Regions from separate parts of the Homo sapiens genome. Here region 1 is linked to region 2. A link means that fine-mapping ties the variant in region 2 to the expression of a gene that starts in the linked region. Tissue or cell type: whole blood. Region 2 holds a variant in brackets; the other region holds the start of a gene. All regions are shown on one strand. Distances are between the middles of the regions.

The links. PIP is the estimated chance that this variant, and not a neighbour inherited with it, causes the effect.
Region 1: LOXL1-AS1 starts here. The variant in region 2 is fine-mapped to the expression of LOXL1-AS1 in whole blood (TOPMed, PIP above 0.99).

What each region holds. Positions count from the first base shown.
Region 1 is chr15:73,924,124-73,932,223 of GRCh38, reverse strand. LOXL1-AS1 (LOXL1 antisense RNA 1) reads left to right here and starts at 3,976. Exons shown (of 3, transcript NR_040069.1): 1 at 3,976-4,159. It overlaps LOXL1 (lysyl oxidase like 1), which reads right to left and starts at 5,762. Exons shown (of 7, transcript NM_005576.4): 1 at 4,339-5,762. The coding sequence starts at 5,440. RefSeq lists silencers at 4,255-4,304, 4,395-4,514 and enhancers at 3,589-4,422, 4,423-5,256.
Region 2 is chr15:73,886,504-73,894,603 of GRCh38, reverse strand. TBC1D21 (TBC1 domain family member 21) reads right to left here. Exons shown (of 11, transcript NM_153356.3): 8 at 7,992-8,092; 9 at 6,868-6,984; 10 at 6,091-6,174; 11 at 5,390-5,535. The coding sequence ends at 5,503. Among named protein-coding and RNA genes, the nearest start is that of TBC1D21, 17 kb to the right of the region's middle. RefSeq lists a silencer at 7,233-7,491. The variant G/A (reference allele first, on the strand shown) is at 3,554.

The sequences.
Region 1 (8,100 bases), 38 kb before region 2:
AATGCAAGCATAATTCTTCCTCTGGATGCAGATGTGGGAGGTGAGGACCACAGAGGCAAAGCTGGCAGAGGGGTCCATGCTCATGCCCTGCCCCACCCTGCCCGCAGGCTGAACATGATATCCTCCTGGGTCATCTCACTGTGATGCAGAGAGCACAGGTTCAGTTTGAATTCAAGCTCGGCTGTACCCTTCTGTGCCACCTCCCTAGGCCTGTTTTCTCATCTACACCAGGAGGACCATAATCTGCACCTCATTAGGAGGTTGTGAGGATGAATGAAACTGCACATTGAAGTCAGTAAGCCCAGGAAGTGGTCTTCAGCAAATGGCCAAGTTGGTATTATTATCCCTGCCTCTGGGCTCTAACTCTGGAAGCTTGTTGGGTGAAGCCTGCTTTGGTCCTTCCCTGCATCTACTCCAAACTCTGCAGGGGAAGGCGAGTGACCTGGAGGGCAGAGGTGGGCAGGCAGCCTGTGGAGGTGGGGTGGAGCAGGCCCAGGTGAGCTAGGGGCTCAGGCAGGAGAGGTGGTAGCAGGCAGCCAGGGCTGCTCTCAGGGACTGAGGGTCCAGACAGGTCTGGCCTCTTGGGTGCAGGAGGCTGGACAGAGAAGGAGGTACCCTAGAAACACCCTTGCATGTGTCTAGGGAGGTGTAACATCTAGGCCCACGAGCAGCATGGTCCCATGGGGGCTGTGGAGGCTTGAGAAAAGGAGGAAGAAAGGACAGGAAGGAGGTGCCTCTAACTCTGGAGTGCTGGGCTGAGACACTAGATTTTGTCCTAAAGGCCCTGAGGAGCTACAGAATCTTCTTGAGCAGAGGAGTAACCTGGTCAGACTGCAGGGGTTTATCTGCCCCACATGCAGGACAGACTGAAGAGGGAGAGACTGGGAGCAAGGGACCAGGGAGGAGGCAGCTGCGGTTCTCTCCTGGCCTCTGATTGGCCATGTGAAGTCAGGGATAGAGGACACACGTCAGGCAAGGCTAGCACAGCCATCCAAGATGCCCTGGGAGGATGCCCAGGGCTGCCTGTTCCATGTTCCTTTCACAGGATTGCCAGAGCCGGTGAGTCAGGCGGGGGGTGCGAGGGTAAGGCCTTGGGAGGGGAGCTTTGGTCTTCTGGGGCTGTGGGGCTTCTTAGGTGGCACTAAGACCCCCAGCTCAGACAAGCTGAAACTCCAGGGAGGCAGGAGCTGAGGCGAGGATCCCAGGAGAGGAGGGCCTGGTTGGTAATAGCAGGAGTGGTCACATCGAGGGAGCCGACACAGTGCAGGAGACCCAGCTGGGCCTGGGAAGTGGCTGGCCACCCTCCAGGCCTCTCTTCAAGGATTTGCTATGAGAGCCAGGCAAAGTATGTGACCCTCTCTGGGCCTCTGTTTCCTCTAGTTTCTTTTCAGTTTCATGTTTCAGAGTTGGAGAGAATGGTACTGCAGGAAGCCTTGGGCAGTCTCAGTGCCCAGGGTAGGAAGGAAGAGGGCACAGGTACCCGAGGAAGAAACTGGGCTCAGGACAGGCGCTTGGAAACCACCCACCCATGGAGGGAGGTGGGTGGTGCTCACATGTGCTTGGTGTTGTGAGGACACGTCCACGCCCACACACACTCACAGGCTGCCAGCGCCCAGCCTCAGACCCCTGGGTGTGTGGCCAGGAGGAATGAAGTCAGTCTCGGAGAATCCGCCTTGGGCTCCCACACCAGGCCTGGGGGTCTGATCTCAAGCACAAGGCTTGGCCTTCCCTGGGCTGGGATTTTCCACGGTCTGGCCTAGCAGGGTGGGGAGGGAGGAACCAATGATGGGAGAGACTACTGCTCCCTCTCTGGCCTCTTTGTGAGCCCTAAACTAGCCTGCAATCCCCTCCCCAGCAAAAAACACACTCCCACCCCACACCCTCAATGATTAGGGGAAGGGGCACCTGGATGGTGCTGATGACCATCCCTTGCAGCAATGCTTAGACATTGCTTCCTGTGGAAGTCTCCCTGAGCCCTAGCCCCTGACAGGGAGGGCCCTCCTCTGGGCTCACAAAGCCCCTGGCCCCACCAATGCTTGCCTAATCACAGCACTGAGATGCCCCTCCTGGTAGACTGCCCCAGGGAAGGGCCTGGACTTGATGCATGTGAGTACACTCAGCTTGGCACCTAGGATGCTACCTTCAGGGGAGAAATGTTTTTGACCCAAAATGAACTGTGGGGCTCAGGGTAGTGGCCAGAGGTCTGCTAAGCACCAAGCACCCCCACTTCAGACATGGCCTTGCCCTGTCCCATTCCCCTCTCAATCAACTGGCTTCCTTAAGAACTAACAGCCCAAAGACAGGCCCTAGAAGACCCACTGACTTGGTGCCCAGATGCCAAGTCCCAGGCATGCCTCTGCCAATATTGTGGCATTTGAGAGCTCAGTTTTCTCTGCCCAGAGGTGGGGCCCATCAGGCTGAGCCTCATGCTGAGGTCTTGCATTCTAAGAAAAGCCACTGCAAAAGTTTAGCACCCTCTAGGTAAAACATCCTATTCTCCAAGGGGCCCTAGAGCAGCTGATGCATGGCTATAATGCGCCCTTCTGCAGGGATGCTGCAAGTACCTGGTAAGGACCAGAGCAGGTGGATGCATCCTTCATCACACCACAGAAGGACCTGCCATCTGATTTTTCCTGAGCTCCTGCAGGTTCTTAAAGTGGGATTCAGCACACAACTCAAAAGCGACACCTTGGATGTGATAGAGTGAGTGTTCCCAGTGGAGACGCTCCTCTCCCCTAGTCTTGGCCTCCAGCAGTACCCAGGGAGACAGGCACCCCATGAGCAGCAGCCCCTCACTGAGGTCAGCTTGGCTGGAGACAAAGCATCATCCCTCTGCTGACAGAGGCTGAGGAGGAGGCTGGGGCACTAGCACCTATACTCTGAGGCACTGGAGGGCTCAGTCAGCCCTTACTTGGTGGGCCAGGCACAGCAACCTCAATGGGGAGCAGAGAATTATGGGTAGAGGAAACTGACGACAGCTTGAAAGAGGCAAGGCAGAGTTGGACTGCATAAGTATTGGGGACTGAGTAGAAAACCTTGGCCCAAAAGCTGCCTGTATGGAGAGGGTAGCAGGGAGGGGGATTCTAGGACAGCAGAGAATGGCTGATGGCCGTCCAGCACTGGCCACACCCACCAGTCAGCCCTTGTCACAGTAGCCCTGTCTGCTAACAGCATGTGTGGAAGCTGCCTTTCCACTGTGTCCTCATGTGCAGAGGGCTTGGGCCTTCCCAAGAGGAGGACGTATGTTCACCCCCTGAAAAGCCAGAGGGAGTCCTGTCCACAGCTGGGGCTCTCCGCCAGGGCCAGGACTAGGGTGAGGGGAATGAGGCCAGTGAGGTGTTTTTTTTTTTTTTTCCTCGGGGTGCAAAATTTTAGGGGGTGCCAAAAAAACTCAGTAACGGAGATAAGTAATATTTAACACAATAGTTTTTAAAATAAAAATTAATGCAAAACTATCTGTAATGAACAAAATATCCAAATATCAAATAAAGACAGGATCCGTGTTGCTGATTTTTCAGTTAGCCTCAGGCTCCAATATGGCTCGGCATACCACTATTACTGACTCTATTTAAAATCTGGATATTTCCTTTATCACAGGTTTTTTTTTTTTTTTTTTTTTTTTGCATTAATTTTGACTTAAAAAAATACATCTCAATATTACTCATCTCAACTACTGTGTTTTTTGGTAGCCCCTGAAATTCTGCACCCAGGCCAGTGCCTGACTGGTCTCTCTTGCCCCAGCCTTGCAGACTCCCCTGAGGAAGTCCGGACTCCTGCCTGGAGCACACGCTCCCCTCTAACCTCCTGCGCACTCAAGCCAACCTCACACATGCCCAGTAATGGGCAGCCTGCCACACCTCCAGGGGCATCCCTTAAGGCCTTTCTGGCCCTGAAGACTCAGGTTTCTGATGCTCCTTGCCTCACCCTGTGAGCTGGCATAGAACATCTCTAAGGGGGGAAGGAGATGCCCTCATTGAAATGAGGGAGAAGGTGGATGAGGGGCTCCTTCCTTTTGTCCTCAGATGACCCAAGCCAAGTGCAGAAGGCGAGCCTCCTCCCAAAGCTCGGCTAGTCCCTCCACCAAAGCCAGGATCAGAGCCCACACCTGCCTGGCCAACCCCTGGCACTGATGATGCCTGGGTGCGGGTTAAGCTGGGAGGTGAGATGCCAGGGGGGTGCTGTTGGCTGGGTCGGGGGAAGTCGGGAGGGGGCGCTGCTCCGTGCTTAGCAGCTCCGGGGAGGCCTCCAGGAAGTTCTAAGGAGGGGCCCGGGGGGCCCGGAGCAGTTTCCAGTGGCCAGGGGTACGCGCGGCCGGAGGGGCGCCGGGGCCGTACTCACCGCGGCCGTTCTGGTTGGGCCGGTACACGCTGCCCACGCTGAGGCGGCCCTGCTGCGCGCCGTTCCGCTCCCCACCCGGCGGGGGCGTGTCGGAGCTGCGCACCGGCAGGTAGGGCGGCTCCAGCGCGCGCGGCGGCCCGTACGCCTCGGGCGGCGGGTTGGCGTAGGGCGGGTACCAGCCCAGGCGTGGGTCTCCGCCATGGGCCTGCGCCGCCTCGGGACCGGGGTCAGGGTAGGCCTGCTCGAAGCCGGGGGTGCCCTCGCTGTACAGACTGTGCGAGTAGCGGCGGTCCAGGCCGTCGGGGGGCGGCGGCGGCGGCGGCACGTAGGGCCTCTCGGGGGCCGGGTAGAAGCCCTGAGGCGGGTACTCGGGCAGCTCTTCGCCGCCGCCGTACTCCTCGTAGCGCGCCCGGGGCTGGTAGGGGTAGATGACCCCCGCCGAGGCCACGGCCGCCGCCCCCGCGCCCACGCCGCCGCCCGCGGGCCGGTAGTACACGAAACCCTGGTCGTAGGTCCGCGACGCGGGGTCGTAGTTCTCGTACTGGCTGACGAAGGGCGCCTGCGGGTAGGGGAACTGCTGCGGGTAGGAGGGCTGCTGGCGGTAGGTGCTGGCGAAGGCCGAAGCCGAGACCGAGGAGGCGGAGCCCCCGTGCCGTTGCTGGGAGACGGAGGTGCGGGCCCGGGCCATGCCCGTGCTGTCCCCGACGGCCACCTCGCGCCAGTTGTCGGGCACCTGGCCAAAGCCGAATGGGTGCCGCGCCTGGCCGCGCACGGTGTCCGAGCCCACGCGCCCCGGCAGGGGCAGGGACGGCGCCTGCCGACGCCGGGGGCTCCCGTGGCTGCGCCGCTGCTGGGCCTGGGGCGCGCCGGCCAGCAGCACCCGGGAGCTACTCTCGGAGCGCTGAGGTCCGGCCGGCACGTACTCTGAGCCCGAGTTGAGCAAGCTGTACACCTGCCCGTTGTTCTCCCACTGGATCAGCTGCCGCCAGCGGGCGGGGTCCGAGCCCTGCCCGGGCTGCGCCTGCTGCCCGTGCACCAGCACGCACAGGCAGGCGCCCCACACCAGGGCCCCCAGCTGCCGGCTGCCTCGGGCCAGAGCCATGGTGACCCCTCTGCAGAGGCCTGGTGGACAGAGAGGCTCTCAGGAGTGGCCCCCTGGGCGTGCTTCTCTTCCCACGGCCTCGAGGACAGGAAGGCTCCTTGCTTGCCCCAGCTCTAGCTTTGTCCATGCTGGCCTTGTCCCGAGCGGGACGGCTCCTCCGATGACAGCATTTCAAGGCCAAGGGGTCAGGGCAGGGCAGGGGCGGTGCCCAGGGCTGCACGAGGCTCTCCGCAGGGCACCGGGCGGGCAGGACCGCCTGTGGGCCTTACATGGCCAGCCCCGCACTGGCTGGCCGCTCGGCTGGCGCTTTCCCACTCTGAATGAATAAGCAACAGGCTGGGAGCGTCGGGAGGCTTCGGCCTCCTGGTCCGCCTGCTGGGGCCTCCTCCGCGGGGCCCTATGGCCCGCCGGCTTTTAGCTATGCGCCGGTCCCACAGCTGCAGTGCTCCCTCAGTCCCTGGAGTTCCCAGCCAAGCCACAGACCTGCCTCTGAGGAAGGGAATCGAGCAGGGAGTAGGAGGGGACCTCTGGGGACTCGGGCCTGGTAAGTGGGGCTCTGGCAGGCAGAACGGGGCTGGGGTGTCAGCACCACCCCGCCCATTCCTCTCTGCTTTGGTCACAGCATCCCTGGTCTCCACCTTGCTCACTGGCTTCTCGTTTGGGCTGGAATGGGCCTCTGACTCCTGTCTGCCCCAGCCTCCTTCCCGTACTCCCGGGTTCTCCCTTTTCCTTGTTCCCTAAAGCCAGTGCTAATTAAGACACACCCTCTTTGCATGTTCCTTCCACCATTATCCCACACCCTCAATAGGAAGAAAAAAAAAAAAAAGACACACCCTCTTTGTTGGTGGGCCTCCTCGGGGAGATGCTGAACAGGGACCACTCTCTAATTCCAGGTCCCAGGTGCACCGCAGCTCTTGGGCCTGCGAAGAGAGGCACTGGAGCTGCACCTTTTCCCTCGTGGCACACCTCAGGGGCTTACTTTCCCAGTCTGAAGAGTGGGGTGTATCCCTGAGCTGAAAAGCACTTGTGAGATCCTGGGAGAGATCAACTTCCCAGACATCACGTATGGTTTCTGTCCTACATCTCTTGGCTCTGCATAGCCTGGGAATAACTTGAGTGTACACATGGATAAAATGAAACTGGGGGCTGTCTTTGATATGGGACAGGGGTCACTGTGAGGCAGAGAAGCCAGTAAGCATTGAACAACAGAAGGGGGTTCCGGAGACCTGGCCTGGTCCTGTTGCTGTGTGGCTTAGTCCCTTACTCTATCTGATCCAGGTGCCACGGCTTACCAATGGAAGATTAGGCCAGATGGCTCCTGAGAGTGCTTTGGGAGATTCTCTGTTCCTTCTGGGAATGGCAGGGATAGGAGGGGGTCCCAGAAGTTTGAACGCTTTGGCATCCAAGAAATCACACTCCAAATACTGCTCTTCTGGCCTCCCCTGGGCTGCCTTCTCCAACCGTGTTCCTGGGAACCGAAGGGCAGAAATTGCCCTCTTGGGCTTATAAACAAGGTATGAAGGACCTGTCCTTAATTTGGCTCCTGTATATTCTTTATTTTGGAAATGCCTGGAGCCCACCTAGAGAGGAGGCAACTAGAGTGGACATTCTTTGGGAACTATAGACCTCCCAACCCCATCCTTGCCAGGCAGCATTTGTTCACCCATTGCACTGTTCTTCAGGACTGAGGCTTGGACTCCAGCATGTCTCTACCCTTTAAATGCCCAGAATCCAGCCCAGAGGTAGGGGGCTTCCAATACCTCCTGGCCAGCAACTTGTCAACGCTGACACCTCAGCTCCCCAGCATGGGGTTTCCATCTCAGACTCCAGACAAGATTCCTCCAAAGAGCCACTGGTGTGACTGACACCAAGCAAGATGCTGAGGCAGGGCTTACTGAGGGCCGGGACCTGGAGGGTTAAGCCTTCCCTCCCTCCTGCTTGCCCCCTGCAGTGTTGGCCTCAGCTGCTTGGAATCCCTGGGGTCCTGTAGGGCCCTCCCGCCAGCCAGATGGGCAGCTGCTGCAGCAGAGGAGGGGGAGAAATGGAAACAGGCCTCAGGGTACCCCTAGGCAGGGAGGGAAGGGAAGAGGAGTGGAGGGAGGACAGAGGATGGCTGTGAGGAAGGGAACTCAGTTGCCCTAACGTGAAGGCAGGACCCCTCGCCTTGACTCGGACAGCAGGGCAGGGGCTGCCTCAAGGCTTTGGATGTGGGGGGATCAGGGCACATGCCATTCCACTCAGCGGGCCTCAGAGCCAGCTCTTGGCGTGAAACCTTACCCGATGCTGGCTCCTGCTCCTCTCTCTTTTTTTCTTAATAAGGTCGAATCAGAGTGAGTCAGAGGAGCCAAGTTTCCTGTTAGGCTCTATTTGAATAAACTCTGCTCTGAACATAGCCTGGGCCTCTGCACAGACTCCCCTGGCCAGGACTGCGCTCCTGCCAGCCATCCCTGCTGAGATGGAGACCTGGGGGTCCACACCATGACTTGAGCTAGGGACCTGGCCTGGCCCAGCCACTCCCCGGGGAAGCTTTTTAAGCTCTCAGAGCTTCAGAGTCCCGTCTGTGACCTGGGGGTAATCATACCTTTCTTGTGGCATATTTGAGAGGATGGAATGAGAGGATTATGAAAAGTCCCCAGCACAGAGCCAGACATGTGGCCACT
Region 2 (8,100 bases):
CAGCCCCATCTTGGGTCCCCACACTCACCCCTGCAGACTGACTTCCTGCAACCCCAGACCCCCAGCCCACTCCCCATCCTGGAGAAGGAATGCACAAGGAATGTTCAGAGCTTTGTTTCAAAACAAGATGCAGTAAACATGGCTGCATCTGGGCCCTCCCACACTTACTGGGGTAATCGAAGGCATAGAGAGGGACGAGGGAAGTAGGACAGAGCTTCCTGCACACACCACCCCTGTCATCCAGCCCTGGACCATCTCGGCCCATCGGTGGGGCTTCAGCTGCCAAGGGTGGGGTGGCCTGTGAGATGAGGGCCTGCTCTGCAGAGGACCAGACAGGAGACTCAGTGTGGGCTGCGGGAGGATGGCAGACGCCAAGTGAGGCTGTGGGCAGGGAAAGAGGTGAAAACGGAAGCTGCCCAAGAGCCAATACCATGGCATAACAGTGGGGCCCTGGGGTTCGCCCATCAGCATTCACATCCGGACTTGGCAAATCACTAGCTGTGTAACCCAGTGCCTCAGGTTCCTCGCTGGTAATGAGAGGGTAATGACTGCACCTGTTTCTGAGTTTGAATTCAGTCATGAGGGTGAAATCAGAATCAGAATTCTGATTCTGTTAGATAAAGCATGCGAGTGCTTAGCACAAGGCGTGGAACATATTAATTACCCAATTAGTACAGCTTCTGTATAATTGTGAGGGTAGGGGTCACGTGCCCTTGTTCGTGACCTCCTGAAGCTCCAGCCCACCAGCTGTCCTTTGGGGTTGGGTCCTGGGCAGTGGAGGCCCTTCCTAGTAGCTATGTTCTTCCTCCTGAAAGGAGGGAGTATCCCTTCCTCCCCACTGACCAAAGGTCTGGTGGCTTCAGGCCAGGACTCGGTTCTGCTGGCAAGCCTGAGGGTAGGTGCAAAAGCCCACCTTCTTTCTTCCTCTCTGAGGGGGGTAACACAGACCCTGGGGCCCAGAGAACTTGGAGTTTTATCCACGGTGCCTCTGTGCAGTTGTTAGTGGGTAGAGAGCTATTATCCTAACTCCAGGAACAAAAAGTGGCCTTGGGGTCATTCAATGTAGCCAGAGAAGAAGGAATAAATGAATGAATTCTCCAGGGAAGAGGCTTAGAAGAAGAGTGAAAGAGAGGTGAGGGTGAGAGCTTGGAAGAAATGCAGCCAATCCAATCCAAGCTTTCATATCTGGCTCAGGACCAAGTTTTGGAAAGCTTGGATGGGGCCTGGCTGCTTCCATTTTCTTTATGCTCATGGCCACGGTGATTCATTTAAAGATATTATGTCTAGGCCTTGCTCATTGGAAGTGTGCTGGGCACTAGTTTTTTCAGAATGAATTAGTCACTGTTTTCATCTCCACCATGATTGCCCTCACCACCAACACCATCATCAATATCAGAGCCCTCCCCACTGCAATCCCCTTCAGTCCCTTCCTTGAATCTCATCTTTTCCTCTGGCACTATTTAAGGAGTACCATTAGAGACAGTCAGTTTTTGTTGGCAGAATGAAAAGTCAGCACTATCATCACCACCACCAGTGATGACATCATTACCACCACCAGATTCTATATCACCTCTGCCACTGATGTCACCATCACTACCACCTCCACCATCATAAATGACATCACACCTCTGCCACCAACACCGCCATATAATTAGCTTCACCACCATCACTGACATTACTACCACCATCACTGACGTCGCCGACATCACCATCACCATCACCGCCATCATCACTGACATTATTGTGTTATTGTCATGGAATTCTTGAGGTATTCCTTTCCAGCTTGAAACCTGTGTGGACAGTGACGCCTTTGCCTGAGTTTTGCTCGGGCCTACTGGGCTTGTTTGCCCACTCAGCCTGGCAGGCATTCGGCTCGCACTATTGGCCTGGAGCCCACACTTGCCAAGGGAGAGCCAGACATGGAGTGTTGAAGTGTGTGTGAACGAATGAGTGTGGGGTCTGGCCACTGCACACAGACAGCCAAGCATGCCAGCTGTGGTGGGAGGGGCAGCTCCAGATGCTGGTATGGGTGCTGGCTGCAGCTGGACCAGGAGTACCACAAACAGCATCCATGGCTGGCACAAGGGAACGCAGCGGTGCATGGAAGCTTGGAGACACCAAGAACCACAGAGCCCCAAAGACGATGTCACAGCCCTGGCTTGGGGAGCTCCTAGGTCTGGGATCCCCAAAAGGCTATAGCTCTTCTCTCCTCTCTTCTCTCCTTCCTGTCACCTGCAACATGGCAAGCAAGGGGTGGGTTTCAGCCCTCTTTGTGTTATAGCTCTTTCAACCCTGCCATTCGGTGGGTCTCAAGTTTTGTCCCACATCCAGGAAGAATGAGGTATGTGGACAAGTGGAGGGTGAGCAAGGCAAAGAGTTGCTTTATTGAGCAACAGAACAGCTCGGAGGAGACCCGCCCTGAGTAGCTCCTCTCCACAGACAGGTCATCCGGTAGTCTGCCTGAGGCTGGCTGAGTCTGGGGATTTTTATGGGCTTCAGAGGGGAGGAAGTGCATGCTGATTTGTCCATGGGTGGCCATGGGCAGACCCAGAAAAAGCCCCATAGGTTGTCACTCCAGTCTGTGGAACTGGCAGCCTGGCCCCTAGTCCTCAGACTGTCCCTGGCCTGAAGGTGGGGTTCACCAGGATCTGCCCCTTTCCACCCAGGATCTGCCTGCCTCCTGCTGTCATTAACCTGCCATCCACGGTGCCCAGGCTGTTCATGATGAGGGGTGCCTGAAGGCCCATGCCGAGCCATCCTTAGCACCCACCCCCTCAGCCTCTCTTCCATGCTTGTCGGTGCCCAAAGTCCAGAGGGGGGCCAAGAAGGCATGGGGCTGGTGTGTAAGTGCTGCCCCAGGTGTGAGCACACCTGGCCGGGTTGTGACAGCACCTGGTCTCAGCCACAGCTTTGCTCCGAAATCAGAGTGGGCACCAGGAGTGGGGAGAGGCCAGGCAGTGGGAGCAGGCAGTTCTGAGCCTGTGAGGGCATGGGGGTTTCAAGGGCCCCCAAGAGTGCAGAGATGCCTGGGTCCACAGCCATGGCAGGGTGGCTGCAGCTGTGCCAGGGAGGGTGGGGCTCCCACCCCTCCAACTTGGAAGGGGGCGGGGCTCCTGCCTGTTTCTGGCTCCCACTGGCTCCATGGAGCATGCAGCCCTCACTGCGCCTCCCCCACTGCAGCTGGCATCATGGCAGTGGCTGCTCCAGATGGGCTGCCACTGCCATCATTAGAGCAGTCCAAATGGTCTAAGACAGTACTGAATAAATGCATGCTGAAATAAACTAGACTGTCATAACACAAACTTAGGCTCTAGGATTTCAATGCTTCCTGTAGTTCTATCTCCAGAATGGACCCTACTAGAGAAAAACAACACTGGGCTGTATAAATGATAAACTAAGTGAGCCAGAGAAGGGGGAATAAATGAATGAATTATACAGCCCAGTGTTATTTTTAAGGACCTGCATAGCAGCATGGTGGGAAGATCCTAATCTACAGTCTGCTGGGCTGGGAGTACTGCAGATGAGCTGAGAGAAGCTCCACTCTTCCAAGATT[G/A]TTACTTTCATCACTCCATCACCTGGGATTTATCTGAATCTGGATCAATTTGGTGTCAAGATTGAATCCACCTCGTCCTTAAGACCTAACAGGTTTTCAAATATGCACCCTAGTAGACAAGAGGCTCCTTGCAGATAACACAGGAAATGATGTGAGGTTCAAGGAGGGGGGCTTGAGAGGGGTGGTCGGGGGAGAGGGCTCTGGGATCTGCACCCAAACTTCATCCGCTGGGCTCCTGGGAAGGACTGTGTAATAAAGGGGCTCCAGTGCTTTTAACAACAGATTTGACAGCAAGTGGTCTAGAAGATGAGTTCTTAAATGTTTGTTTTGAAATAGATGTTTGGCATTGTGTGTAGGTCCCAACCAAAAATAATCGGCCATCTGAAGTCACCAGTCTAAAAGAAGCATTAGAAAATGTTCATCTGATGTTTCTATTGATTGTTCTCTTCCCAAGGCCAAAACTAGCTCAGCAAGATGTCTTTTACTCTTGTTCTCTGCCTCTCTGGCAAAATGCAAACACAGTTTCATCCTTGGAGAACTGTCTTTCATGCGGGAACACTTATTTAAATAAACTGCCTTAGGAACATAAAAGCAAAGGAGAAGTGTAGTATATGAATTGACCCATGTGCCTCCCTGCCCAGCAAACATGAGCTCTTTAGCCATGCAGAGAAGGTGTTGCTGGGGGGACAGGCCCTCATTCTTCAGCATTCCCCCTCAACCTTCCAGCAAAGATACAGCAGCTAAGAGACTCAGAGCTGGTCCTGGATGGGAGACTGTCGCCTGAGGGGAAGGAGACCAAGCACTCATTGGGGACATAATGGCTTTGGAGTGATGGTCACTAAGAGTGCCAGGATGGGAGCAGAGGGAGGGACAGTTGGCTGAAGAGTGAGAGGGATGGCCATGCCTTACCTCTAAGGACCAGTTCACAGCAAAAGCAAGGGATCCCTCCTGCCCATGTGTAATGTCAGCCCTCCTGAAAACTTGTAGTCACTGGGCAGGGCAGTGTGTATGTGTGTGCATTCGTGTGTGTGTGTATGTGTGTATGTATGTGTGTTGCTGAGCAGCTCTGGGGGCACCCAGCCAGCCCCAACCCTTCTGCAGTTTCAGCCTTTCTGGCCCATCTACATGTCTTCCCTCAGAGGGGCCAGCTAGAGCATGGGGCAGGCTGGACAGGGGCTCAGGGCTGTGGCACAGCCTGGGGGAGCAGGTGTGATGCACCTTTTCCTCACAGAGCAACTGACTGCCTGGCCAAGGGCAAAGAGTGCATTCTCAAGAAAGATTGATCAAGACTGGAAAATAAAATGTAGCTTGAGGACACATTTGCAGGCTGATAAATGAAGGCACAATTATGAGGGAGGCTTTGAAACCAGGAAGGGAATTGCCTGCTCATCAGATAGTTCTTCCAGGCCAGCCCCTTCCACAGACTAGCAGGAAATCTCTGGAAAAAATGACTTAATTGTGTGATTGATGTGACAGGACTCAGGGGAGCAGTGGGGGTGGGGGCAGAGCCCCAGGACCAGCCTTCCTCTCAGGACCTAAGTCCAGATGAACTAATCCTTATTAAATGTGCTCAGTTTTGTCCTCCACAGGGGTCTGGAAGCCTTTCAGAGCTGGTTCTACTCTAACCATTTGTATCCAGATATGGATCCACCGCAGCCTTGGAAAACCCTCCATCAAGGAGGAGCCACTGACCCAGTCTCTTCCAGCAAGCACCCTCCCTAGTCTCAGAATGTGTCTCTCAGCCAGCCAGCCTCTCTTCCTATCGTACGACCCTGTCTCAGCCCTCATGTGCGTCCCAGCCCCTAAGGTCAAAGACATAGCATCCACCACAAACCATTATTCCAGAGGACTGTTTATATTGCAGCTGTTTTATCTACTCCCTCACTCCAGTGCCCCTGGCCTTCATCCTGCCCATCGAAGGCATCAGTCCACTGCGGGCTTTGGTGTCCTCAGAGGAAGAAATCCTTTAATGTCTGAGGAACCTAGGGAGGAGGCAGGTGGGAGGTGCACAGACATTGGTCTGTCCCTTTCATTCTTCGGTTCTTCTAAGCAGCGACATTCTCCTGAGCCTCTGGGTGCCCAGACCCACTGGGATGGACACAGGGAATGGGGGATGAGGGCCCTGCTCTCAAGTAGTACAGCCTGCTCAGGGAGGAAGGAGCTACATGTGCAAACAACGAGAAGACCATGAGGAGCAACATGCATGGGTCAGTGGTAGAGAACGTGGCACAGTCTGTGTCTCTGAAGTTGAATGCACCTGCCATGGGCTGCGTTTGGGAGATCAGGATAGGCTCTGATGAGGAGGAGGAGGAGGAGGAAGAAGAGGAGGAGGAGAAGGAAGAAGAGGAGGAGTACGAGGAGGAAGAGGAGGAGGAGGAAGAGGAGGAGGAAGAAGAGGAGGAGGAAGAAGAAGAGGAGGAGGAAGAAGAGGAGGAGGAGGAAGAAGAGGAGGAGGAGGAGGAGGAGGAAGAGGAGGAGGAGGAGGAAGAGGAGGAGGAGGAAGAGGAGGAGGAGGACACATCATTGGGGCAACTTACATCCTTCTGGATGAGCTCAGCATAAACCACGCAGGCGGCAGAGATCAGCTCATCAGCATCAAGGTCGATGAGGTTGTTGCAGGCCTGCATGGGAGTGTGGGAGCAGTTGTGGGTGGGGCTGGGGCAAACATCTCCCAGCACTCTTGGGCACATGCAGCTGCCTGCAGCACCCAGGGAAGAAGGATGCTGCTCACAGCAGTCGCTGGGGACCACCTGACCTCTCCCCAGCCTGCTTGGCTCAATGCCTAAAATTTGATATTTTGGGGCAATGGTAAATGTTAGCTTTCATGTTAGGCTCTAGGAGTCCTGGGGCTCCACCAAGTGTCTTAGGGGCTTTGAAGGAGGACTTGGTTTATAATTAGGGTGTCACCTAAGATTTGTTTCTTCCAACAAAGACTTCAGTAGCTTTTTTAAAATGGTGGAAAACTCTAGGTCCTTCTGTTTCAGCAATATCCTAGGGCCACAGGGTTAACTGCGAGATGGTAGAGCTTAATAGTTAGGGAGTGTTCAAGGCCTCCATTTCCTCATGTGTTAACTAGGGGTGATGATGATGGTTATAGCCTCCCTGTGTCAAGCTTGTGGTGAGGCTTAAACAAGCTCTATTAAAAGCCCTTGGCACGGTAATCCGTACCTTAGATCTCATTGCCCTTTCTGTCTGGGGGGAAAAGGTGGCACTGGTGCCCAGCACCCCATGAACCCCGGTCTTTCAGCTGGGGTGGGGTGGGGTGTCAGGGCCTCCAGGAGCAGGGGTGGTAGCTTGCCCGAGGGTGCTCTCACCAGGAGGATGTCATCCCCGCCCATGCTTTCCTGCAGCACCTGCTCCCGCACCATCTGCAGCATGCTGTAGGCCACCAGCACCTGGAAGTTCCTGCAGGGCTTCCCCGTCAGCAGAACCTGTGGGTCAGGACGTCTCAGTCTGGGCCCTGTGGTCTGAGACTGCAGATGCCCTGAGGATGGTGAGGTACCCACCAACCACGTGCCTGGAGTCAGCCATTCCTGGGCCTTGCTGCTGACTTGCTCATTCAATCATTCCTTCATTCACTCACTCACTCATCCACTCACTCAGGCATGTGCTCACAGGTACTCCTGGTTCTAGGCATTGTGCTGTCTCCTGGGGGTTTCAGAGATAGAGGCTTCAGGGAATTCATTAGATAGAGGAAGGGGAGGGAGGCAATGAGGGGTGGGAAGACACTAGGAAACTGTCGAATTTGAGTGGGGTTTTGGCAAGCAAGGGTTGATGGGAATTAAATGACCCAAGGATGTCACCAAAGGCCTGGGTGTGGTCATGGACTTGGGCATGGAGACCAGCCAGCCAAGAGGCAGGTGGGAATAGATCTGTGGGGCCCTACATGCCAGGTGGATGGTTGGGCTGGACACTGCAGGCAGCGGTGGCCATGGGCAGGGCATTGATGGGTGGGGGTGGCATTCCTCAGAGGGTTCATCTGCTGATGGCCCTGAGGATTGTGGTCACAGGACTACAGGTGTCCTTAGGGACCCACCTTCTGTGAGAGAGTTCCACAGGAGCAGCACTCTGGGGAAGGGGAAGGCCAGGGTTGGGGGGACAGCTGGGGAAGTGAAAGCGTGGGGAGGCCACCTGGGCAGGGCAGCGGGGAAGTGGAGCTGCAGGCCCAGGCTCCCACTGCACAGGCCATAGGGCCCTCCTGTGTCAACTGCTAGCAGAAGGCACAGTCAGTGGGGCCTTTGTGTTAAATGAACATATGGACAAAGTGATGCTCCAGCTTCCTCCAGCAAGGTGGGAGCAGGGTTGCTGACCTAACAAAACCCCGAGATACTGAACTCCATCCAAGCCAGGAAGAAAGGGGGAGGCAAGGAAGACTTGCAGCTTCCACTCTGCCTGATGGGTGGAGCCCAGCCTGATGATCCCTAGCTGGACACCTCACCTCCCAGAGCCTCCAGACATCATCGAAGGACTTGAAGGCACGCTGGAAGCAGAAGCAGAACCAGGGGAAGAGGGACTGCACAGCCCCTGCACCCTTCCCTTCTGTGGGG